Linked DNA regions of Homo sapiens. The protein of the gene in region 2 interacts with the protein of the main gene of each other region in a biochemical or structural test. Each region holds a gene or a part of one and is shown on either strand. Other genes may lie near its edges. The genes, in order: GRIP2, ATRNL1, SIPA1L2, PDLIM1, DVL3, CARD11 and MPP2.

Region 1 (3,500 bases), on a different chromosome or scaffold from region 2:
ACCTCACCCTGGGACAGGGCTCCATTCTTACAGCTCCCTCAGCTGCCACAGTTTCAGAGTCTAGGGGCAGCAGGGACAGTCCCCCAATGCCTCAGGAAAGCCCTAGGCAGTGCTGGGACCAGGGTACTGGGGCACTGCCCCATCCTATTCCGCACACAGCAGGCGCTCCAAATAGCCTTGCAGGGCTGACCTTCCAGACACAGGTAGGAGCAGGAAGATGCACACACCTTGGCCCAGTGCTTACCTGGAGCCAGGAGGTCTGCTGGGGTGTGGGCCTCTGCCCTGGCAGGCAGGGGCTGACACTCATTTTACAAATGCAGACCTGAGTCTCAGAGAGGGGAAGTGACTGGCCCAATGTCACCCACAGTGTCAATGTTGGAACAGAGGTCAGAATCTTGCTTGGCTTTGCCATAGCCCCAGCTCTTGCTTCCTGTGTTCCCTGAGCCCACCATGCGTCCCCACAGAGCCCCAGTTCACCTCTCAGCCAGGCCACGCTTGGTGAGGCCTGAGATGACAATGGGGTCAAAAGGTTCCTCCGTGCCCGAAATGGTGATGCCCAGGGGACCCCCGTAGCGCTTCAGCTCCACTGTGTAACTGACGGCACCTGTGGTCTCCAGCTCATCTGCAAGCACGGGGACCCATGAGGAGGAGGCCCCCGAGGGGGTACCCAGCTTCCTAAAGCCTTGGCCTCACTCACTCACTCATACTTATTTATTAATTCATTCACCCAGTCACTCACGCTCTGATTTCATGTAGCACAACCTGGGGACCCTGAGGCCATCTTCTGCCCAAATACCAGTAAAGAAAAGAAACATCACACCTCACCCACAATAATGACAACATTGATGACAAGAAACAGTGGCCTCTTTTCCTCCAGCAGCCAGCAGGAAGCAAAGGGAACCCCGATCATCCGTTGTTTTTTTTTTTTTTTTTTTTTTGAGACAGAGTCTTGCTCTGCTGCCCAGGCTGGAGTGCAATGGCACGATCTCAGTTCACTGCCATACCTCTGCTTCCAGGGTTCAAGTGATCCTCCCACCTCAGCCTCCCAAGTATCTGGGACTACAGGCATGCACCACCAGACCCAGCTAATTTTTGTATTTTTTGTAGAGATGGGGTTTCGCCATGTTGCCCAGGCTGGTCTCGAACTCCTGGGCTTAAGTGCTCCACCCACCTTGGCCTCCCAAAGTGAGGGGTGTACAGGTATGAGCCATTGCACCTGGCCCAACTTTTCTTAAAAGAAAAGAAAAGAAAAGAAAAGAAATCTACCTCCCACAGTAACCTTCTTTCACAGAGTCGGAGTTGGTGATTTGGAGGCTGCCCCTTTGAATCAGGGATTCACTTTCCAGTTGGCGCAGTCCTCACCCGTCCCTTTTGCCTCTCCAATCCATACAGCTTTTCTCACTCATTTATATCACTATCTGGCGTCAGTGGGGCCTGAGTCTGCAGTCTTTGCTTATCCACTCATAGCCTGCCACTCAAAAGGGCAGCCTCGCTCTTCCCCTGCCCTACCCACTCATCTCTCCACCAGCTGCACCAGCTGCACCCAGTAGGTCTCCTCTGCCAGGCTTGGTGCTAGATGTGGAGACTACGGGAGAGTCTCAAACTCCTGTCCACCTCACAGAGGCTCTGGAGGGCCCCAGACGCCGGGGACAGTGAGAAATCTGTGGTGTTGCCCCCTCCTTCATTTGTTCATTCCAGCCAGCCTTCAGCAGCGCCCACCACCCTCCCTTCCTCGGCTGGAGGGAGCCCTGAATTGCAAGCTGGGAACCCGCTAGTCAAAGGGTGGGCCTCTGGAGGTAGGAGGCCAGCATGAGGGCCATACCAGAGTTGTCCTCGTCCTTCCGGATCTTCAGCTTCACCAGGTCCTCGCACTGCCGCAGGATTTGCACGGCGTCCTCCATGGGGCAGTTGTCCAGGCGGATATTGTCAATGGCCAGTAGCTTGTCGCCTGGCTCCAGGGTGCCCGTCCTGCATGAGTCGGGGGCAGAGGGGATGGAAGGAGCCTGGTGCATGCAGGTGCCATACTCACTGCTGTTGGCCACTTCCCTTCCTGTGCCCCAGTGCCCCTACCTGTGTGCCACGCTGCCTTTCTTGATGTCGGAGATGATCAAGGGCTCCCCTCGTTTCCTGCTGGCCGCTGGAGAAAAAGAGGCCATGAATCTGACCTTGGTGGCCTCAGCCTGGGGTGGGGTGGCGAAGCCCAGGGGTCTGAGTGTGGACTCGGAGCCACTGGTCCTACTCACATCCTGGTCCCACTGCTTCCTGGCTGGGTGACCGTGAGCAAATCAGCTCACCTCCCTGTGCATCAGTTTCCCCCCTGTAAAATGGGGGTGGCACCGCAGACCTCATGGGGATGTGGTGAGAGTAAACCAGATAACACAGGCACAAGATCCAGCATGGCCCTTCCAATGCCAGCTCTTCTTTCCTCCTGCTCAGCCCATCCCCCAGCAAACTGCGAGCTCTTTGTGGAGGGGGGCTGTCTGCTTGGTGTCTGTGTCCCCAGCACCGGGCTCAGGGCCAGCACCCAGGCTCTATTGTGTGCTTGGGGGTGGGAGACACAGAAGTGAACAAAACAGACAGCAATCTCTCCCTGCCCTCCTGGAGCTGGCACTCCAGTGGTGGTCACAATCAACAACATTTAAACACCGATGAAGTGAGCTGTGGAGAAACCTGAGAAACGGGCTTGTGTCGAGGGCGGTAAATGTTCAGTCAGGTGGTCGGGGAAGGCCTTGTCAAGTGACATTTGGGCAAAGCCATGAAGGAGGTAGGGAAGAGGCCAGAGGAACGGTCTCAGATGCAAAGGCCCAGAGGCAGGAAGGGGCAGGCATGGCAGGGAGCAGCCAGGCTGACTGCGGCTGGAGGGCTTGAGTTGGGGAGAGTCGGGAGATGAGGTCAGAGGTCATGGGGTCCAGAGCACAGAGGGCCTCACTGGGGCCCGAGGCCCTCAGCTTTTACTCAGAATAAGATGGGAGCCACGGGAGTGCTTTCACCTTTCCCATGCTCACCCATTCTACGTTTTTCTTCTGCATTCCTCATTTTCATTCCTTTGACAAACATGAATTAAGCACCTACTGTGTTCCAGGCCTTTGCTGGGCTCTGAGAACACAGAAGCAGGCAGAAAACCAAACCCAGCCTAAATATTTGTCACCTTCCAATGCTCTCTCACCATGGGCACCTCACAAGCCCCCTGGGAGACCCACGAGGCCAGGGGACTGCCATGGTGCAGAACGGGAAGCTGAAGCTTTGGGAAGCTGGGGTCTCGCTGAGAACACGCAGCTGGGTCCACGGAAGCCAGCCTCCCCACACCCCCAAGCCTTTTCCTCGGGCCCCGCAGGGTGTCACGCCATGGAAATGCTGGTCTGAGCTTGGCAAGCTCTTTTTCCCCAGCAGTTGAGCTCGCTCCCAGGGGCAAACAGCAGCGGGAGGAGACTCACAGCTGATGGTGATGCCCAGCTCCACGCTGCGCTTCTTGGGCAGCTTCACGTGGAAGGTGCCACTGC
Region 2 (3,500 bases):
GACTGGTAGAAAATATATGCAAATGATATACCTCATAAGAAGCTAGTAATCCAGAAAATGTAAAGAACTCACAAAAATCAGTAAGAAAATTTTTTTAACATGCAAAAGGTTTGAATAAATGCCTATTACAGAAGATATACGGATGGCAAGTAAGCACATGAGAAGATACTCAATATCATTAGTAATTCGGGAAATGCAAACTAAAACCCAATAATATACCATTCACTTATTAGAATCACAAAAATTTAAAAGACTAACCATACCAAGTATTGGTATGGATGTGAAATTAACTAGATAGAACACTGACTCACTGCTGGTGGGAACATAAATGATACAACTACTTTGGAAAACAGTTTGTCGGTTTCTTTAACAGTTACACATATATCTACCCATATGATCCAGCCATTCTCAGGTTATTTCCCCAAGAGAAAGGAAAGCATATGACCATACAAAGATAAAAAGGCTTCCACATGAAACTTCGTAGCAGCTTTATAAGGAACAGCCAAAAATTTGAAACAATCCAAATGTCCATCAGCAGTTGAATGGATAAACAAATTATGGTGTATCCAGACACTGGAACACTATTCGGCAGTAGAATAAACTACTAACACACCATGAATGAATCTCAAAATAAACACGCTGTGTGAAAGAAGCCAGACAAAAAAGAAGTATATAATGTATGATTCTATTTACAAAAAGTTCTAGAAAATACCAACAAATCTATAGTGAGAGAAAGCAGATCAATAGTTGCCCTGGGACAGGAATTGGCAACTAGAAAAGGGAGGGTTTACAAAGGAAACACATGGAAACTTTCTAGCGTGATTGGTATTTTTATGATTTTGATTGTGGTGACAGTTTCAGATGCAAATACATATGACAAAACTTATCAAATTGTATAATTTAAATAAATTGTACATTTTAAATTGTGCTGTTTGACAATTATACCTCAATCTCTTAAAAATTTTGTTTAAATAACTATCAAAATTATAATTAAACACCTCATTTTTGACAATACTAAGAAGGAAAAATAGTGCTATTAGGGCAGTATATAAGGGGTAACCTAGTGTGAAGAGTCAGACAAGCCTCCTTTAGAAACTAGTATTTAAGTGGCCAGGCGCAGTGGCTCACGCCTGTAATCCCAGCACTTTAGGAGGCCGAGGCGGGTGGATCACGAGGTCAGGAGATCGAGACCATCCTGGCTAACACGGTGATACCCCGTCTCTACTAAACAAAAAATTAGCCGGGCGTAGTGGCGGGCGCCTGTAGTCCCAGCTACTCGGGAGGCTGAAGCAGGAGAATGGCGTGAACCCAGGAAGCGGAGCTTGCAGTGAGCCGAGATTGCGCCACTGCACTCCAGCCTGGGTGACAGAGCCAGACTCGGTCTCAAAAAAAAAAAAAAAAAAAAAAAAAAGAAACTAGTATTTAAGCTAAGATTAGAAGGATGATCAGTAATCACCCAAGCAAAGACCAGAGAGGAAAGAGTTCACAGTTACGTGTATAAAATGCACTAAGGCCAAAAGGAATGTGACACTTTCAAGGAACTTCAAAAGGCCAGTCAGGGCAGAGGAAAGGAGGCCTGAGTCTAATCAGCTAAAGGGGCCAAATCATGCAGACACGTGTTCTTGAAAACCATGCTACTATGCTTCTACAAGTAACTTACCTTATCAATTTAGAATCTAAGAAACACTCAATTTAAATTATTTTAAATTCCTACTGTGTGATTATACACTTTAATAATGTAAAAATAATCCATGGATATAAATTATCCATTAAAATAAAACTTTGAAATAAAGAAGTCTTAGGGACAGGGAACATTCAGTTTAAGTTTATAATTACTGTCAGTTTCCTTACAAGTAAAAAGGATTCCAAATATATATGTATTTACATATGCATATATATATATTTGTTTTTTGTTGTTGTTGTTTATTTTTGTTTTGTTTTGAGACGGAGTCTCGCTCTGTTGCCCAGGCTGGAGTGCAGTTGCGCGACCTATGCTCACTGCAACCTCCGCCTCCTGGGTTCAAGCGATTCTCCTGCCTCAGCCTCCTGAGTAACTGGGACTACAGGTGCGTGCCATCACACCCAGCTAATTTTTGTATTTTTAGTAGAGACGGGGTTTCACTGTGTTAGCTAGGATGGTCTCGATCTCCTGACCTCATGATCCGCCCGCCTCGGTCTCCCAAAGAGTTGGGATTACAGGCGTGAGACACCAAGCCAGGCAATATGCATATATTTTTAACAGCTTAGGGGAAGAGTTTACACACTTTATTCTGCCCGTTTTTGTCTATAATAACAACCTAATTCCTGACATTATATCATTACATCTTCATTTTGCTGTCACTACAAATAGAATGCTTCATATATGTATATATAAATTTTTAAGAAGAGTCTCGCTCTGATACCCAAGCTGGAGCGCAGTGGCGTGATTACAGCTCACTGCAGCCTCAACCTCCTGAGCTCAAGGAATTCTTCCGCCTCACTCTCTCTTGTAGCTGTGACCACAGGTGTGTGCCACCATGCCCAGCTACTTTTAAAATATTTTTTGTAGAGATGAGGTCTCACTATCTTGCCCAGACTGGTCTCAAACTTCTGGGCTCAAGGGATCCTTCCACCTCGGCCTCCCAAAGTGCTGGGATTACAGGCCTGAGCCACGGCACCCAGCATACTTCCATTTTAAATGCGTGAAATGAAGTATCCAAATTTGACTAACCTAAGAGGGGTAAAAATATACCCCTTTATATTTGACTAATATAAAGAGCAATACTCTTTATATTTATATAAATTTATATAAATCTCTACTCTACAAAATTAATTCTCAAGGGCTCCCTTCTAAAAGAGAACGTCATTCAAATAGATTATAGCAGAATATTTTCTTGCTTAACATTACACTGAACTATTCAAATAAATACAACTTGAATTAGAGTCTGTATCTTTGATTATTATATTTCAAATATATTTTCCTATTCTCAATCCCAAGTCCTTTAGTCTAGCTTTGGGTGAAAAATCAATGTTCCTTTTGTTTTACCTGTGTAAGGAAGGAATGGCTTGTTATTCTGAGTGCTTTATTCTTTTCAAATGGAAACAGAAGACTGGAATCAATGCTAAGAGAACTGAAGTACCACTTTTGATACTATATTTGCTTCTGCATTTCTTCCCCCAACTATCAATCTTCTATCCTCAAGAAACATTTGAAGAACATTTTTATTCCCTGGCGAAATCCCTATAGTAGAAAAAAAGCTAAGTTACCATGGAGCCAACCAATTAATTTTGACACCTGCTTACCAAGATTGATCAATCATTTTTAATGTCTGTTTGTAAGGTTGCTATCCTTCAGTTTAGAAAAAGATTTTCAAGATAGTTAGTGAAGTGAGATTTTCTAGTTAAAGCCTTTCCCACTGTGTTATTACTTCAAATGCCAGGTAAAACAAGCTACTATCTTCAAATAAACCTTTCATAGGTTTATTTGCATGTACTTTACCAAGAAGAATTCTTTTCTACTA
Region 3 (2,835 bases), on a different chromosome or scaffold from region 2:
CCCGAGTAGCTGGGATTACAGGCATGTGCCACCATGCCCGGCTAATTTTGTACTTTTAGTAGAGACAGGGTTTCTCCATGTTGGTCAGGCTGGTCTTGAACTCCTAACCTCAGGTGATCCACCCGCCTTGGCCTCTCAAAGTGCTGGCAACACCAAAGTGTTATTTTATTTTATTTTTTTAAAGGCAGTCTTGCGTAAATTACTTCACTTGACCCACAGTTCATGTGGTTGTAAATGGGAACCCCACCTCCTACCTATGAAGGATAGATACCATTGGGGTTAAATGAGATGGATGAAAAGTTCAGAGAATAGTGTCCGCCACACAGCAGCTATTAAAAACTGCTAGGTACTCCTTCCTGAAATCGATCTGGGATTCTATGAGAAAGGAGCTGAACAGTATTTAATACAAATCAAGGTTCTAAATGACCTGAAATAAATTCACATACAGTCAGACTGTTGACATGTTAGATCACAAAAAATCTAGTCACCTGACAACACCATTTCTTATGTGGACTTCTTTTAAACATTTATTAAAAAAGCAAAATGTATGTTCATCTCAAATCTAACAGTTAAAAATGGTAAAGCAATACAAACAATGTGTTACTAGCAGCATCCAGTCGTTAGAATCTCTCACCCTGCTTCTCGGTCTGATCTGTGCAAGCTCAGTCTCTTCTGAGCCTGCAGCTACCTCCATCCCTCATCGTAGTGCAGGCCAAACCAAATTTTATAAAATTAACAATTTAAGGTTAAATAAGCTTAAATAAGGGTGTTAAATACAAGACACTTCATCAAAGCTTCTGTACAAAGATAAACAAATCTGGCATTGTACAAGTGGTTCCGCTGGCTCACAGCACACAGGGAAGTTCTAGTGAGTAAGCAGATTCACTCTCATTTCTTTCCAGCAGAGCAACTATACAAAAGTGAACTAAGAGTTGAAGTGACTACTGACCACTCGGTGAGCCATTTACAAGGCATATGTATCTTTTTTTTGTTTTTAATCAGAACACTGTTAATATTCAGGCACCATTTGTTCCTGCAAATAAATAAGTCTCTAAGGTAACTGCATCTGAACTAGTGTTAAACACAACAGTGCTTTTTTTTTTTTTTAATCCCCCCACAAAGCTTTTCCAACTATGTACTATGCCTCCTTTCTTATTGCTATGGTAATGTGGCTGTGGAAATAAAACTACTGTACATCCAAAAAAATAGAGCACCTTTAACATTAAAGTATATGTCTGATTATTTGTTCTCATGTTTATTTTACAATACTAAAGCCCAAACTATGGTAAATTGCTTTACATCTCTACCAGGTCACCTGATATACAGGAAATAAAACTCAACTATCTTCCCTCTTGAGGTAAGCCCAAGCCAGAGCACTGTTTTAGCAGAGTCTAAAAGAAAAAGGTCTCAACTGTCGCCAGGGTTTACATTCATCTTCACACCAGGAGTTACATTCATTCATCTTCACATCGGCGCTGCTCTCTGCCGTGGTTACCGAGAAAGAGTCGAGGCTCCCTATCCTGCTGTGGTGAATGGTGCTACACAGAATGGAACAGCAAAAACATCTACGATTGGTTGAAAGCACACAGAAAAACCACATGTTTGTGACTTCAAAGGGACAAGGGGCATTTCCCAGTGGTCCCTTGATGAGGTGCGGATTGGCTAAGATTTTTTGTCGATGGTGGTGAAAAACCATTCTGTGAATTTCCGCAGCTGAGCTGTCGCGGTCTGGGACTCCTCCTGCAGTCTCATGTTGTCCTGTCTCAGGTGCTGCACTTCTGCTTGGAGAACGGCCTTGTCTTGTTTTTCCTGGTCAGAGCAGAAATAAACTGAGTCATGGAGACTGATCGATACATTCATTCCTCCTAAGCTGGGCTACGAGAATCTTTGATTCTTATTTTTACTTATGTACTTTTTGAGGGGAGAAGGGGTGACTTTCTTTAGTGAGGGGACTTTTCTGATCCTGATTCCTGCTGATGACAAAGGGATGGGAATGAACACTCCACACACCCTGTTCTTTCATCCCACTCTGCTCCCATGGGGTGCTAAGATAGCCTTTATATAGGAAGGGTGTTCATCATAGTTTATATTACCCTCTATCCAAAAAAGGGAGACTACAGGGAGGTTAAAGGTAATACCCTTTTGACAAATGCACAAAACTTTCTAAGTAGAAAATTGGAATTAGCAGAGCTGTTACATATGTTTATAATAAAATATGTACTTAGGTCTTTCATTCCATCAAGCTTTCCTGCTATACTATATTTCCATAATGACCCTTAAAATCTGCTATTAAAAACTGTGTAAAAATAATCAAGACTTTCAGAAGAATCACATCTGGAGTTTCCAACATGTAGCAATAAAAAAATGTATAGCAGCAGTTTCAGTTCCCCCCCTGCTGAAAGGGATGCCTTGCCCTAAATGAATAGAGGGGTCACTGTCAGATTGTAATAATCGGTATTTCTGTAACGGGATCTAACTCAACCACTACAGCCACCACATGCCACCCCCAGCACTGTGCAGGAGCATTGAGTGAGGTGAGTGGACGCCCCCACCCTTGGCATATCTGGTCCTGCCCTCAAGGCTTCCTCGTTTCCTGAGCCCTTCCAAGGCCCTCCTCAATACCACCTGCCTGGTCACTGGCCCAAAAGACACTGGTCCTCAGAGGAGGCCTGAATCAGAGCTGACCACTCACTTTGCTGTAAGGAGCAACTGCAGCCCACCCTGGATAGACTCACTTCACTCTAAGAAGCAGCTGCAGCCCACCCTGGATACTGACTCTCCCCGGACATTCCTCACCACGACTCTCAGTCCCAAGACAGTCTGAGTCCCACAGCT
Region 4 (3,964 bases), about 20 Mb from region 2:
CAAGTACATAAGATTAGCATTATATTAAGAAGCTTTAGCAGTTTAGCAAAAGACTGGAGCCAATACCACAATAATTCATGCAAGAGAAAGCAAACATGGTTATTTAAATAAAAGGCACTCCTCTCCCAGCCTAATTTTATGGTTTGCTTTGGTGTGGAGACTCAAAGTCTATCATATACAAAACTATACCAGCAAATTGCCCAGGATGATAAATAATGTAGCATACCTACCAATCAGAAAGTGTGTACAGCTCTTTGTCAGTGCTCACATTTCCTCACTATCACTATTTACGGAGCACTCTCACATACCTTAACTCACAGCCAAGGGCTGGTGCTATCCCCACTGCAGAGGTTTTTTTTTTTAAGTAGCCTCAGACAGTGGAAGATTCACCCCAGGTACAGCTCAAGCAAGAAGACACTGGACCAGCACCAGATCTCAGATGGCCACACCAGGGTCCCTTTATGACAATGACTTTCCCATTCCCATGAGGTGAACAGGCTCACAATTTTTCCATGTATTAATAAGGAGCTGAAGAGAAACAAATAAATTACTGTCAGCATGAAAATGTTACCTCTTCTGAGTCACTTCCACTTTTCAATTAAAGCACCTGCCAAGGGCATTATAAAGATTAGTTTCCATCACTAGACCATGAACACCTTGAGAATGGAGCTGTGCCCTCTCATTTCTGAGGCGTTTGCACAGTTTCTGGAATATGATACGTGCTCATTAAACACGTGCACACGCCATAAATAAATAATATAAATAATAAATGAGTGAATATATGAAGGTAAAAACCAATGAATTCACAGTGTGGTGTTTTCCACCCCATTCCATCATTCACTCATGCATTAAGACTTTTAAAAGCAGCTAAAGTGAAAGGCAGTAACTGCCCTTTTAACAGATTGCCAATACATCCTCCACTACTTAAAAAAGGGTTTCATGTCATATATAAATCTCAGAAGTGGAGAGGGCTGACAGGTTAATTATAGACACAAAGAACAGGGACAAATGGACTATGAGGTAAGCGAGTTGAAATGTGCAGACACAATGTCCTCCCTGGACAAGCATTTATTAATAAGCCTGCAAGGATTTACCCAGCCCGGCCAGGTACAGGTCTGCTACCAGGCTCGGGGACGATTCTGGGGAAGGCACAGTTCCTGCGCTTGAGGAATTAGGCTGGTGGCTGGAAAGGCAGTGTGTACCTTTGAGAATAATCAGAGGTCTCTGTGGGACGAGGCAAACAGGTGGAAGATAAGGCCCAAAAACTGGCCCGCCTACTCTTTTAGGGGGGTGAGATAGAGAAGACCTCCTCACTGGGCCAGGCCAACCGGGAAAGAAGCATGGGTAGGACTGTGGCTGGCAGACAAGTCAAGAGGAGGCCACCAATTCTTCTCCTGCACCTCCCACCAAACTCCTTCAGCTGCTGGACGCAGGAGCTTGAGTCAAAAGGATCCATAAGGATATTTCCCTTTCTTCTCCACCCTTCCCCCAACCCCAAGTGAAAAAGAAGGATGTTTAGAAAGTCTGGGAGACAAGCTGAAGGGCAGCTTCAGCAGGCAGATGAGCCCAAGAATGGAATGTGCCGCCTACAGGCAAGGAGTGGCCATGGGTGGGGAGAAAGGGGACTTCTTTTTCTCCCTTTCCTCATTCGAGGTACTTACTGAGTCTCTTCTTGGTGCCCAAGCACTGAACGTGACATCTCTTAGTGGGACATCAACCTGTGTTTGGCCAGATTAAATGGCCAAAGCCCAGACCTCTGAACACTGAGTCTGGGTCTCCCTGGGGGTTTCACTTTATTAGGGGGGCAATGGTTCTGGTGGCCCCTGATTCAACGTGAGTCCTTCTAAAGATCCGAAGCCCCTCTTAGATTTCAAGCACCTCAACCCCACCCCAGGTGGACACCCCATCGCAGTATCTACTCATGCCCTGAGAAAAAAGGGCTGGTGCGGGGAGGGGAAAGAGATAATCTGGGAATGCTAGGAAGAATGACGGCGGGGCCACGTTCTGCAGAGGGGAGAATGACCAAGAGGGTTTACTTGAGTTTGTTTGTTGTGTTTATTTCCCGAATCCAGCACATTCTCCAAAAGCCATTCGAGGGGCGAGCCTCGGCCGTGGGTCAAGTCCAAAGAGCGTGTTTCGGTTGTTTTTTTAGGTTAATCCCACTTGCCCCCCACCCCAGTAAACTTCCCACCCACCCCACCTCACTTTCCAGGTCTTTCCTGTTGCGTTCGGCTGCACTGCGATCTGGGAAGAAGGGAGAAGTGCCATCTCCCAGCGCGCGGGATCTGCGGGGACCCTCGTCCCCTCGCTGGTTGACAAAGAACTAACACCCGCCCCGCCGCGCTTCCGGGGCCAAAGAACGAAAACTGCCTTCTTTTTTTCTGGCGGACACGGAGCGCGCCCGCGGCGGGCCGACCAGCCCGGGAGCGCAGCCTCCGCGAAGGGGCGGCGGGGAGCGGCGGGGCCCGGGCGCGCGGAGAGCGCTCAACTAACAGCGCACCTGGACGCGCCCGGCTGCGGTTCCGACTCCGTCCCCGACCGCGCCCGCGGGGCCCCAGTCTCCGCATATCACCTCCCATAGCGCCCCGCTTCCACGCACGTCCCAGCTGCTCTTACCCGGGAAATGGCGAGAGGCTGCTCGAAGTCCTTGCCGCCCACGAGGCGGAAGCCCCACGGCCCCGGGCCCTGGAGGTCTATCTGCTGGGTGGTCATGGCGCGGCTGTGGCGGGCGACGACCCGCGGGGACAGACGGGCAGGACGCGCGGAACAGCTTGCAGGGCACCCCCGGCGGCTGTCGGAGAAAGAGCGGCGCGGCGCGGGCCCGGGGAGCCTGGGGCTGGCGGGGGCAGGGCAACCGCGAGGGCCAGGGCGGGGGCGGCTCCGCCCAGGCCGCGTAGCCGCCCGCCGCCCCGCCCGTCCTCCCGCCCGCAGCCGCTCCCCGCCCTGCGCGCCGGCCTGGGGGCCCTGGCCCGGAGTCCCGCCGAGAGAGCGCGAGTCAGATGCGGGGCCGGGGCTCTCAGCAGCTCTGCCCGGGACCCCACACCGCCTCCCTCCCTCCTGTACGCACGGCCGCACCGCGGCTCTCGGGCCCGGGGCGGGTGCTAGGTGAGAGGGAAGCAGGTCCTGACAGCGAGACAAACTCGCGCCTCGTGCTTTGTAAAACGAGAAATTTGAAGTGCTGTGCCAAGTCAGCCCTCTGAGGTCGGCTCCGACTTCCCATTTGCTTTTTGTAATCGGTAATGATGTTTAAAAGGTGCTTTCGAACGATCTCATTTGATGCTGAGGCAACCGGGACGTTTAGTCCCATTTTACAGATGAAGTAACTGAGTCTGCTCAGTAGGTGAGAAGACTTGCCCGACGCTACACCACTCGTCAGCATCTGGACCACTGCCCGGGCCCAGTGCTGCAGAACCCCATCCTGGAACTTTTATAATGCTAATGAGACCATCACTCAGGTTATAACTGAACTTCAAGGCCTTCCTAGAAATCTTTCCTCCAGGCTGGAGTTCATGGTAGGTTCTGACCTCAACAGTTCAAACCTCAAGTTTGGGGCGGGCCAAGGGCCAAGTCAATGCAAAAGAAGAGCTGAGTCCGGGACCTGGATTCCCAGCCTCCCACCAGCTTCCTAGCCAGGCTCCCCCTGACGCCCTCCCGGTGGAGTGCATTCTCCACGCCGGACCAGACCATTTCTCATGCTGTCCATGGCGTCCCCACCTCACCACCAGTGAAAACCCAGATCCTTACAATGCCTACAAGGCCACCCCTAGAATGGCCCCAACTCCCTCTCTGACCCCAACTCCTCCTGCCCTTTCCTCACCTGCCCCCCAGTCTGCCAGGCTGTGCTCCTTGCTCCTAACTCAGGGCCTTGCCTCAGGGCCCTGTCTGCAATGCTGTTCTCCCAGACATCCCCACCACTCTCTGTCATTTTCTAGGGGCCGGACACGTGGCTCACGCCTGGAATCCC
Region 5 (3,500 bases), on a different chromosome or scaffold from region 2:
TACATTCCTTAATGGCAAGGCTACTCCCACCAATGTTGGAACTACATTGAAGAGAATATAAGGGGCCACCAGGACTGAATACCTGCCTGGGACACCCTCTGCTCACACACTATCGGTACCAGGTCCCAGAGCTCCAAGAGAGCTACAACTGCCCTTGAGGCCACCGGCCCTATTAAGATGAGACATTCCTCCCAGCCCTAAGAAGAGCCAGCCCCAGCCTTCCAAGAGAGAAGTCAGGAGACAGGGCTCTGAGGCTGCCTGTGGAGCCTGCAGCCAAGCCATCAACCTGTCAAGAGGCCAGCAGCCAGCATGGGGAGTGGTGGTGGAGGAAAGCAGTGGTCTGTCAGCTGTTGCCCAGAGCTGGTGATGACGTGAGCCTCCAGGCTGTTTGTTTTGAGGGAATGACTGTGTGCTCCTCGGGGCTACCTAGGCCTCCAGTTCTTCCCTTTAAGCCTACAACACCCTAGCTGAGACCTTGACGAGTGAGAAGGAAAAGGCCTATTCTGGCAGTATCCTCCTGAGCTGGGCCTCTGGGAGGTTGTGAATATTGAGTAAGATGATGCTTTAGGAACAACCAACATGGTACCAGGCAGAGCAGGCACTTAGAAAATGCCAGGCCCAAGAGGGAGATGTGGGCCAGGTGAAGAGGCTAAACTGGACTCTTCTTCCACCATAGAACTCTCAGGCCTTGAATTGGGCCCCTGGCTCTGCTGTCCCCCAGTTTGGGTTCCCCAGAGTCTGCTGCCACTTCCCTGGCTACCTCCCCACTCCCAGCCAGGAGACAGGGCAAGAAGATGAGGGAGGCACATACTGCCGCAGAGGTCACCGAAGATGTAGTAGCACTGCTCGGAGAAGGTGATCTTGTTGACGGTATGGCGGATGAAGCCAGCTTTCAGCAGGTTGCTGGCATACTTGCGGGCCTCCCTCCGGTCCGTGAAGCCTTCCACATTGTGGTACAGCCAGTCCACCACATCTGAGCCTGGGGACAAGGCTGCCAGTTGATGGGGAGGCCCATCTGACTTGGACTCATCTGGCCTCACAGAAGCTATGAGGCTGGGGCTGGCTCCAGATCAAAGGAAGGGTCCAAGGCAAGTCCTGGGCCCTCCGGCCTGCCCTGCCCCATCACTCCCCACCCACCCTGCATCCCACCATGGGGCTCTCTCACCGATGAAAGCATTAGGGATGGTAATCTTGAGCCACATGCGGTCACGGACCTCCAACCCTGATTCAGGGGAGGCCATGGCTTTTACGATGGCAGCCATGTCACTGTGGATGGACAAGTGGAAGTCGTCTAGGCCTGGGGGTGGGAGGCAGAATGGTGAGGCAGAAAGGGGCTTTGGAGTTAGGTAAACAAGAGTTTGCATTCTAGCTCTACCATCTAGTAATTATGGGATCAATGCTGGGAAAATTACTGATTTCTTGGACACTCAGTTTCCCCTTCTGTAAAAAATGGGGATTTTAATATCTACTTTACAAGGCTATTTGAATAAAGGATTAAATAATGTAAATGCAGGTGCTTGGCCAGTGTACGATGTGCATGTGATGATAATCGAAATGGCTGCCGTTTACTGAATGCTTACTTTACACCACACATCGCAATGGTGCTTCACTTATATCCTCTCATTAAACCCACAGGAACCTGGTAAAGTTTATATCGTGAGTCCCATTTTGTAAGAGGAAACTGAGGCGCCCTGGGTGCTCATACAAGTTCAGAAGCAAACACTGTTTAGTGAGGGTTGGAGTGCCCGCTGTGGGGGAGTTGCAGTGTGGGGTTGCTGGAATGAGCCGAGCCCCATCTCCAGCCCTCTCTGATGCTCAAGCAAGAGTCTCCACATGGACCCTCATCAGTCCCCCCACCTGGCCCTGTCTGCTGGGCCCAGGAGACAGGGTGGGACACTCACGCTCTGTGTCAGGGATGGAACTGGTGATGGAGGAGCTGGTGGAGGTGATGGTGCTCAGGGAGGGGCTCATGCCGTATGCAGGGAAGGTGCCGGTCATGGCTGCAGTGTGGGAGACCCAGGCCGCAGGGTCAATGGGCCGGATGGGCTCGCCTGCAGGGAGGATGAGGAGTCATGGGCTACCCACCCCACCCACTGCTGGGCCCAACAGGATAGATATGGGGGTTCTGGGTGAGAGAAGAAAGGAGAGACAGTGCTCATGTATGTAAGCACCAGCTTTAGGACTGAGTCTCCCATCCACTTACTCCTGGGCAATGTGAAGCAACCACGTGGACTTGGGTCCCAGCACTTGGCTACAGTCAGGGTGATGGGCCTGAAAACAAGGGTGTCCTAGTGAAGGCAGGATGCGTATAGGCCAGACCAAGCCCCTTGCCCAGTGCCCCATTCCATCCATACCCCGGTTTGTGCACAATCTCCCGCAGTACCCGGACTGCATCGTCATTACTCATGTTCTCAAAGTTGATCTCGTTTACCTGGGAAAGGACCAGGAGTGGGATAAACAGCTGTGCTGGGGAGGATGAAAAGGGAACTCAACTTGGTAGGTCAGGGAGTCTTCCCCCAACCAAGAAGGGGCCTCTGAAGGAGCAGGGTACAGATGGTAGGACACCTCCCTGCCCTCTATCCACACCACCGCCTAGGATGGGCACTGATACCTGTAACAACATATCTCCTGGCTCGATGCGTCCATCAGCAGCCACGGCCCCACCCTTCATGATAGAGCCAATGTAGATGCCGCCGTCACCACGCTCGTTGCTTTGGCCCACAATGGAGATGCCCAAGAAGTTATATTTTTCTATAGAGAGTAATTTAAGACCTTAAGGGGGAGCAAGGTTCCTACCCGCATTCCCAGCCCATTAGAAAATGGAAAGGGACAGGAACTGAACTGACATTTGCTGATCCTGAATCAGGCACTGCACTCAGCATGCTCAAACATGCTTCCATGGAACCCTTGCTGGCTATAAGGTAGGGACTCAGTCCCATTTTACAGAGCAGGCAACTGAGGTTCAGTGAACTTAGAAGATGACTTTTCTAAGCCAGTAAGTGGCAGAGCCAGGAATCAAACTCAGATTTAAATCCCATAGTTGGGCTCCTTTTACTATATCCAGCTGTCTCATAAAGAGAGTACCTAGGGCAGAAATCGGAGAGCAAGGATGCAATGGCTGAGAGATGTGAAGGAGTGGGCACTCAGAAATCACTTCCTCCAGGAAGCCTTCCCTGATACCATTTTCTGCTTCCACAGCTCTCTGTGCTTATCTCTGTCATAGCCCTGATGGTGAGATACTAAAATGATCAGTTTATGTATCAGCTGATGTTTACGAAAGAGAGCTCCTTGAGGGCAGGGAACATATTCTACGCTCTCTGAACTCAAGTCTGCCCAGTGTCTGGCATATAGCAGGTGCTTGAGAGTGCTGTTTCCTCAGACTCACCCATGTTGAGAGTGACCGTGATGATGTTGAGTGACATGGTGGAGTCCGTGATGCTGCTGAAGGACGAGGACTGGAATAGACAGAGGCCCTGAGCAGCAGGTGGAGGTGGCAGGAA
Region 6 (3,500 bases), on a different chromosome or scaffold from region 2:
CAGCAAGGAAGTGGCCAGGTCAAGCTTGCCTTTTTTTTTTTTGAGATGGAGTCTTGCTCTGTCACCAGGCTGGAGTGCAGTGGCGTGATCTCGGCTCACTGCAACCTCCGCCTCCTGGGCTCAAGCGATTCTCCTGCCTCAGCCTCCCGAGTAGCTGGGACTATGGGCACGCACCACCACGCCTGGCTAATTTTTTTGTATTTTTAGTAGAGACAGGGTTTCACCATGCTGGTCAGGCTGGTCTTGAACTCCTGACCTCGTGATCCACCTGCCTCGACATCCCAAAGTGCTGAGATTACAGGCGTGAACCCTCGCACCTGGCGCCCTGCATCTTCTTATTTATGTTTTTAATTTTAATTTTTTAAATTTTTAAAAATTTTCGCTCTGTTGCCCAGACTGGTCTTGAACTCCTGCCCTAAAGCGATCCTCCCACCTCAGCCTCCCAAAATGCTGAGATTACAGGCATGAGCCACTGTGCCCAGCCCTACCCTGCATCTTCTAACTTCAAAATGAGTGGCTTCCACTCATCACTAAACAGACACAAACACAACAGTAAAAGATGTGGATTATGCTGGGCGTGGGAGGGAACTTCCGGCTTCAAATATATGAAGAGCCAACCGGGCACAGTGGCAAACGGCTGTAATTCCAGCTCTTTGGGAGGCTGAGGCGGGAGGATCGCTTGAGGATAGGAGTTTAAGACCAGCCTGGGAAACAGTGAGACCTCGTCTGTACAAAAAAATTACAAAATTAGTCAGGAATTGTGGTGTGTGCCTTTAGTTCCGCTACCCAGGAGGCTGAAGTGGGAGGACTGCTTGAGCCCAGGAGTTTGAGGCTGCAGTGAGCTGTGATAGTGCCACTGCATTCCAGCCTGGGCGACAGAGTGAGACCCTGTCTCAAAAGCAAAACAAAACTAAACAAAGGACAAGGAGCCATTCATTGCACAGGGAAGCGGCGACTGGTCACAGCCCTCAGTGGGTGCCAGGGGGCACCTGGCTTCTGGTTTGGGGCCCCACAGGGAGGTGGCGACTGGTCACAGCCCTCAGTGGGTGCCAGGGGGCACCTGGCTTCAGGTGTGGGTCTCCACGGGGAGGTGGGGACTGGCCACAGCCCTCAGTGGGCACCAGGGCCCACCTGGCTTCAGGCGTGGGGTCCTGCCCGTCCCGCCCCACCTGGTCCAGGTTGTTGCTGTCCTTGGAGAGGCGCCGCAGCTTGCTCTCCAGGTTGACGATGCAGGCCTCCCGCCGCACCATCTCGATCCTCATCTCGTCGTTCTTCTCCTCCAGCTCGCGGATCTGCTTCCTGTACTTGTCCTTTTCGATTAAGCACTGCGAGTACTGTGTCTGAGCTTCATCTCGGGAGTGGAAGGCCTGCCAGGGAGAAGCGGGACGAAGGCTGCTTTGGGGGTTGCACCCCAGCCAAATCCAGCTGGGCCCAGGGACAGGCATCATCCCAACCCAGGGGCCAGCCACATCGTCTGTGGCTCTCGTCTGCAGTCTGACCCCTGGGCGTGTCAGTCACTACCTTCTTCATTAACGCGATCACAGAGCCGATGGTCCGACCCTTGCTAGTGGCAGGCTCTGTGTTGAGAGCTTTGATGCAGTGTCCCTGGAAGGCCACAGCCTGTCCCTATGAGGCGGTGCTACCGTAATTATCCCCATTTTACAGATGAGGGCACTGAGGTCAGGGGTGGCAGCTTGCCTATGGGCATACACCTTATGAATGACAGGGCTGGATCTGAACCCATCCTCTCACCCGAGAGAACACACAACATTTAAGAACCATGCTTGGTCGTGGGAGCTGCTGGAGCCCAGCTCGGATCCCCCTGCTACCCAAACGCCTGTGACTTCCAAAAAAGCCTTTTGGAATTCATCTTTTAGAATTCATCTTTGGAACAGAAATGGGAAAGATGGATTCAGGAGTGATCCCTGCATTGTCAGTGATGTTGCACTGGACAAAACACTCTGAAGGAGCCGGTGGTCTGGGGTGCGGGCCCCGCTGTGCAGCCTCGCCGCCCTGCACGCTGCAGGTGGTGCCTGTACCTGGTCCCGCTCCCGCTCCACCTCCTCCAGCTGCAGCATGACCGTGTTCATGCGGTGCTTGTACATTTCACAGTCCTTTCCCAGGGTCGAGCACTTGAGCTCCAGGTCCTCCTTCTCCTCCAGGTACTGTGAACCACACAGAGAAATCAATATGCGCATCGAGCAATCAATAGGTCAGGACTGAAAGCTGTTCTCTGCTCGTGCCTTCCCGCCAGCTGGCTGGAGCTGGCCTGTCCCTCCCTAAGCTGGCATGGTCAGGACATGGCCTGCCCTTCTGGGAACCGACTATCTGACTGTTGGGGCTCAAGGTAGGAGACCAATCAACCCAGCATTGTTGTGAACCCACTACAGACCAGGTAACATAGGGGAGGACAATGTGATCTCAGTCAGGAGGGGGACACAGGTGCTAAGCTGGTGCAATAGCTTGTACATGCCCAAGGGTGGCCGGCACATCTGGGATCCTGCAATCCGCAAGGTGTGGGTGAGGCTCTGAGACTCACACCTTGGCAGGTATGTGGGTTCCCCCAATCCCAAGCCCTCACCCTCCCCTCTGCCCACATTGCTCCCACCCCCAGGCCCTCATCTGGTTGATAAACTGCAGCTTCTGCCAGGGGCTGAATACTGGGAGGTACAGGGGATTTATGCCAGGGGTCTGATCTAGTCCCTGGAAAGGAGTGTGGGGTCAGGGAGGTCCTGCTGACACACACCACTGCCCCCTGGTGTGAAGGGGGCCGGCCGAGGGCACCGCTGGGCGGGCGATCCCCACTCCCACCTTGTCTCGCAGCTCCTCTGCCTGGCGGGCCTCCTCCTGCAGGTTGTAGATCCTGTTGACCAGCTCCTGCCTGTCCTCCAGGGCCTCCTTGCGGTCGTGTTCCAAGATGTCCAGGATGGCCTTGTCTGAGTCTGGCAGGCTGCGCTTCCCGGCCTGGGTGGGAGGGAGGAGGTTTCAGAGGGTCAGGGTCGGGGTGGGGAGCCAGGTGGTCCTGGAGGGCAGGGGACAGAAGAACCAGCAACAGATACGGACAGAGCAGAAGGTTTTGTGCCTGGAAGGTAGAGGCAAGAAGAGATGTATGTCCCCTGGGGTCTCTAAGAAGCTTAGCATTTAAGAAGTTTATTGCCTGGAAAGAAGCAGAAAACTGGCTTTTGCTTGGGCGTATCCTGGGCCTTTTGTTCTCCCTGGCGCTTATCGGAGCGCAGAGAAGCAGTTGCTGCACCCGAAACACTTTTTAGATGCTGCCCCTGAAATATCAAGGAATCTGTTCTGGAGAAGCTGGGTTCATCCTCGGCTCTGAAACAGAGCCTCATATACCAGGCAGCCACTCCTGGGGGGACTGTTCTGGAGGGAGCAGGAGGATGCATGTTTTTTTTCTTGCCCTGTAGATATGTTTTGGGATGTCACTCCTCAGCAACTTCCTCCTCTGTGCCCACAAGTGACTCGGCGATGACAAGTGTGGGGAGGCA
Region 7 (4,051 bases), on a different chromosome or scaffold from region 2:
TTCGGGATAGATTCCCATTTCTGAGATTTCCAAGCAAGTTTCCAGAATGTAATCCATTTCTTTTCTTTTTGTTTCTTTTGAGACAGGGTCTCACTCTGTTGCCCAGGCTGGAGTGCGGTGTTGCAATCTCGGCTCACTGCAGCCTCAGCTTCCCAAGTAGCTGGGACTACAGGCGCGCGCTACCACGCCCAGCTAATTTTGTTTATTTTATTTTTTGTAGCGATGGGGTTTCACTATGTTGCTTGGGCTAGTCTCGAACTCCTAGGCTCAACCGATGCTCCCGCCTCCGACTCCCAAAGTGTTGGGATTATGGGAGTGAGCCACCGCGCCCGGCCAAAGATGCAGTCCATTTATGATCTTAGGAATCCAGTTAGCAAGGAAAAGGGATGACTCTCACATTTTGTTCAGGGCAACTGGACGGGGTGGCTGAACGCCGAGGTCGGAGAAGTAGCGTAGCTGGCCCCAAATGCTAGTCGCACTGCACAGAGCCTCCCGTATTTGGAGGCCCAGCATCTTTTACTAGCAGATGTGGGGTGGAGCCGGAGGCTGGGCGAAGGCGGGCCAGTGGGTTTAACCCTTTATTTACTTTTTGGGCTGGGACTCTGAGGAAGGCTAGCCAGTTACTTCTTTATTCCATAGGCAGGAAAATGGACCAGGCCTCCCTCACCTAGACCTAAAAGAGGCTCTCGAATCCTTTCAGGAAGACATTTCCTCTTTTTTGCAAAATTTCTGGAAAGTCTGGAATCCGGATATCCACCCTCTGAGTCCTTAAAAAGCTGCCCCTGATCCCGAGGCCTTCTGGGGCTGGTATCCTGCTTCCTGGGAGTCTCTCTGAAGTCCTCCTATTCTTTTTCTCAATATGGAAGCAGGATAACGAGGAAAAGTGAGGCACGCCTGGAACTAGAACGCCGGTCTAAGCCAAGATGGGTGGGCGGAGTAATCAAGCCGGTCTCATTAGGCACTTTTACCATCGCCCCTTTAAGGGATCCTTGGGAGCCGAGGGGCACCAGCGGGTACTGGTACCAGTCCTGCCTCCCTAACCCTTCCCAGTGGGACTCCAGCAGGGCGTCGTGGTCTGTGCGGTGTCTCCCAAACCACTACCTGGCTGCCCCCGTACCAGCTGCTGGGAAAGACTACTTCCTCCGAGTTGTGCCGGCCTCCGCGTTCTCCTCACCTCCCCTCTCCTCCGGACCTCCGCCCCCTCGCGGAGAGGCCTTGCCGCTTTAAGAGCCGGGCTAGCGATTGACAAGCAATAAACGCTGAGCGCCCGGCTGCGCTGGAGCCGCCCGGAGCTAGGGGCTTCCCGGGGCGCAGGTAGGCGTCCCCCGGCCCCCGGGCCAGCTCCTATCCCAAGACCTCCGCCTTCTTTTCGTCCTGACACGGCACTTAGGACCCTATTCACTGGGTTTAAACTCCACAGGCCCCTTTCACCCAGGCCCGTTCCCTCCCTGTCCACCCGCCCCCGCCCCTGGGCCCTCTTTCTGGGGTGCTGGTTGGGAGAACCAAGCCCCGCTGCCCATTGACACTGGTCCCCGCCCCTGCGGTAGGGGCTCCAAAGTGGCTTCAGGCACCAAGGTGGTGAGCTGTGAGGGGCCCCGGTATCTGCGCGGCCTCCCCGGGGGCTGTGCGGGTTGGGGGTACTTAGAAGCCCGGCATTACGTAAGAACCGTGCTGTTAGCGCTTCCGGGGGTTGGGGAGCGAGACAGAGGTTGCGCTGGGTCCCGGTGGCCCCCTGGTCCCCCTAGGCAGCTAACACCACAATCTTCCCTGGGAGGGGGTCCGCAGAAGGGCGCGCGCTGCTTCTCCCGCTTCCCAAGCTGTAGCGGGGCGGGTCGGGAGCCAGGGTTAGGGTCTGGAGACTTGGGAGGGGACCGGTGCCAGAAGCGAAGAGCTAGGGTTAGAAAGTTAGGTCAATTAAGGGGGGGGCGGTGCGGATAAAGACGGGGTGGGGGTTGGCCGGGGCAGTCATTTAGTGACCTCATCCCTGGTCTCCGGCGGGCGCGCACGTAGAGAGCCTTCTTTGATGGCTCACAACACGCCCCCCTCCCCCAGGTCCTAGCGCCCAGGGTGTTAGGGCTGGGTCCGTTGGGGCAGGGGTGATCTGATGGTCCAAGCATGCACGTCCGCCTGGCCTTTCGACCCCATCCTCTGGCCCTCAGTTCTGTCCAGACCTCCCCGCGACCTCTCGCTCTCCAAAGCGCCTTTGTCAGACCTTTCTTCTCCGCACCTCTTTGTATGTGTATGGATGGAGGGATGGGTGGGAGGTTGGAAGAAACCTCTCCCTTTCACTGCTGGTCCGCTCGCCTGCGGACACTATGGGTGATGTGGATATCTCGGAGGCAGAGCTGAGAGGGCATCTGGGCCCAGGCTTTTGGAAGCCGAGGTGCAGGTTCCCAGATGTCTGGGTGCAGGACCTTGGCACGGAGCCAGGCTAGCTTGCCTGGCACTGCCGTTCTCCTGTGGACACAGCCAGGCCCCGCCCTCTCAGAGGCTTGGACGGGCGTGGGGGAGCAAAGCCAGCCGATGCTCTGGGAACCGATTCCCCGGGAGAAAACCCAGGCAGGCTGGGCAAGACTTCCGAGCGCAGGGATTTCATACAGGATCCTCCCTGCCTTTTCCCGCCCTCCACGCTCTAGGGAAGGAGGACTTCTGGAGTCCCTTCTCTGACCCTGTGAGGGAGAGCAGCGCCAGCCAGGAGAAGGCTCCAGGTCATCAAGGCCTGGGAGGGGGAGGGAAGGGATCCCTCCTCCCTGCTCTCTAGGAGTAGAGATTGGCACCAGGGGCACGGGCCAGCACAGTGGATCCTGGGCATTTCTTCCAGCCTGGGTGTAGCCTGAATAGGGGTGCCCTTCCTCTCCCTGAAAGCACCTTTATTCCATGTCCTCAGCGGCAGAGCTGGGAGGAAAGGGAACCATCCCCCTCACTTTTGTAATTTCTGTCACCTGAGCTCAGGTGACCAGCTCAGGCCTGAGAAGGGAATGGGAGCAGAGAGGGTTTTATTGAAATCAGGTACTAGTCCTCTGGGAAGAATCCTCTTTTGGGGGGAGGTGGAGTTGCCGTGGTTCCCCCACCCCCAGGACTCAGCAGGCATTCAGTCCTAAAGTGGGCACTGCCAGATGCTTCCCCCCACTCCCCACCCCTGCTGTGAGCCACTGCCTCCTGTTGTCATGGCAACTGGGAATTAGGGTTTTATCCAGCAGCACATGCCCAGGAAGGCAAAGGGAAGAAGGGTGGGGGGTAACCCCCTGCCCTCTCCTGGGAGAACGAGGGAGCCACTCCTAGCCTGGGGAGGCCCTGGAATGGAAACTGGGGCTGTAGACTCCATGCTTGGTTCTGCCCAGAGCACTTGGTCTCCTTGTGCCAGCTCTGAGCTAAGAAAGGGAGAGAGGAGAGAGAGCCAGCCAGAGGGGCCGTGGAGAGGTAGATATCACTCTGTCAGCCCCCCAGATAAATGTGGAACATCGGCGCTTTGGTAGGCCTAGGTTCCAGAAGCAAATAAAATCAATGTGGTTCTGACTCTCAGGGAACCTGCAGTCTAGGAGTACTCATGTTTTCTACTTTGGCTCAAATTCTGGACTCTTTTATTATTTTTTAAATGACTTTTTTTTTTTAAGACAGGTTCTTGCTCTGTTGCCCAGGCTGGAGTGCAGTGGCGCAATCATGGCTTACCGTAGCCTCGACCTCCTGGGCTCAAGAGATCCCCCTGCCTCAGCCCCACAAGTAGCTGGGATCATAGGCATGCACCACCACACCTGGATAATTTTTAATTTTTTTGTAGAGATGGGGGTCTCGCCATGTTGCCCAGGTGGGTCTCAAACTCCTGGGCTCAGGTGATTCTCCTGCCTCAGCCTCCTAAAGTGCTGGGATTATAGGCGTGAGCCACCTTGCTCAGCCAAATTATAGTCTTACCCTCTAAAAATTCTACTTGTTTCCTCTTCAAAAAACAAACAAACAAAAAATACAACAGGAAGAAACACTTTATTTATATACTTATTTTTGAGTCATAAAACCTGGATTTTCATTTTAGCTCTCCTTATTAGCTTTGTGAACT

Evidence for each region.
Region 1: the proteins of ATRNL1 (region 2) and GRIP2 interact in a test that uses a peptide from one of them, tested with the Homo sapiens proteins (one large-scale study listed by IntAct).
Region 3: the proteins of ATRNL1 (region 2) and SIPA1L2 interact in a test that uses a peptide from one of them, tested with the Homo sapiens proteins (one large-scale study listed by IntAct).
Region 4: the proteins of ATRNL1 (region 2) and PDLIM1 interact in a test that uses a peptide from one of them, tested with the Homo sapiens proteins (one large-scale study listed by IntAct).
Region 5: the proteins of ATRNL1 (region 2) and DVL3 interact in a test that uses a peptide from one of them, tested with the Homo sapiens proteins (one large-scale study listed by IntAct).
Region 6: the proteins of ATRNL1 (region 2) and CARD11 interact in a test that uses a peptide from one of them, tested with the Homo sapiens proteins (one large-scale study listed by IntAct).
Region 7: the proteins of ATRNL1 (region 2) and MPP2 interact in a test that uses a peptide from one of them, tested with the Homo sapiens proteins (one large-scale study listed by IntAct).

The regions. Positions count from the first base shown.
Region 1 is NC_000003.12:14,509,343-14,512,842, forward strand, and holds part of GRIP2 (glutamate receptor-interacting protein 2), read right to left. Parts: coding exon 3,435-3,500; exon of another isoform or gene 3,097-3,434; coding exon of another isoform or gene 3,095-3,096; exon of another isoform or gene 2,351-3,094; intron 2,138-2,350; coding exon 2,071-2,137; intron 1,969-2,070; coding exon 1,823-1,968; intron 623-1,822; coding exon 478-622; intron 1-477.
Region 2 is NC_000010.11:115,096,365-115,099,864, reverse strand, and holds part of ATRNL1 (attractin-like protein 1 isoform 1 precursor), read right to left. Parts: intron 3,221-3,500; exon of another isoform or gene 3,026-3,220; intron 1-3,025. UniProt on the Homo sapiens protein: May play a role in melanocortin signaling pathways that regulate energy homeostasis.
Region 3 is NC_000001.11:232,397,465-232,400,299, forward strand, and holds the end of SIPA1L2 (signal-induced proliferation-associated 1-like protein 2), read right to left. Parts: intron 1,810-2,835; coding exon 1,663-1,809; 3' UTR 501-1,662; downstream 1-500.
Region 4 is NC_000010.11:95,288,204-95,292,167, forward strand, and holds the start of PDLIM1 (PDZ and LIM domain protein 1), read right to left. Parts: upstream 2,801-3,964; 5' UTR 2,713-2,800; coding exon 2,617-2,712; intron 1-2,616. UniProt on the Homo sapiens protein: Cytoskeletal protein that may act as an adapter that brings other proteins (like kinases) to the cytoskeleton. Involved in assembly, disassembly and directioning of stress fibers in fibroblasts.
Region 5 is NC_000003.12:184,165,377-184,168,876, reverse strand, and holds part of DVL3 (segment polarity protein dishevelled homolog DVL-3), read right to left. Parts: intron 3,456-3,500; coding exon 3,386-3,455; intron 2,752-3,385; coding exon 2,612-2,751; intron 2,432-2,611; coding exon 2,355-2,431; intron 2,272-2,354; coding exon 2,204-2,271; intron 2,052-2,203; coding exon 1,902-2,051; intron 1,298-1,901; coding exon 1,166-1,297; intron 980-1,165; coding exon 812-979; intron 1-811. UniProt on the Homo sapiens protein: Involved in the signal transduction pathway mediated by multiple Wnt genes.
Region 6 is NC_000007.14:2,935,868-2,939,367, forward strand, and holds part of CARD11 (caspase recruitment domain-containing protein 11), read right to left. Parts: intron 2,965-3,500; coding exon 2,812-2,964; intron 2,166-2,811; coding exon 2,040-2,165; intron 1,368-2,039; coding exon 1,170-1,367; intron 1-1,169. UniProt on the Homo sapiens protein: Adapter protein that plays a key role in adaptive immune response by transducing the activation of NF-kappa-B downstream of T-cell receptor (TCR) and B-cell receptor (BCR) engagement.
Region 7 is NC_000017.11:43,904,737-43,908,787, reverse strand, and holds the start of MPP2 (MAGUK p55 subfamily member 2), read left to right. Parts: upstream 1-1,251; 5' UTR 1,252-1,314; exon of another isoform or gene 1,315-1,575; intron 1,576-2,036; exon of another isoform or gene 2,037-2,104; coding exon of another isoform or gene 2,105-2,233; intron 2,234-2,636; exon of another isoform or gene 2,637-2,708; intron 2,709-2,807; exon of another isoform or gene 2,808-3,420; intron 3,421-4,051. UniProt on the Homo sapiens protein: Postsynaptic MAGUK scaffold protein that links CADM1 cell adhesion molecules to core components of the postsynaptic density. In CA1 pyramidal neurons, required for synaptic KCNN2-containing channel function and long-term potentiation expression.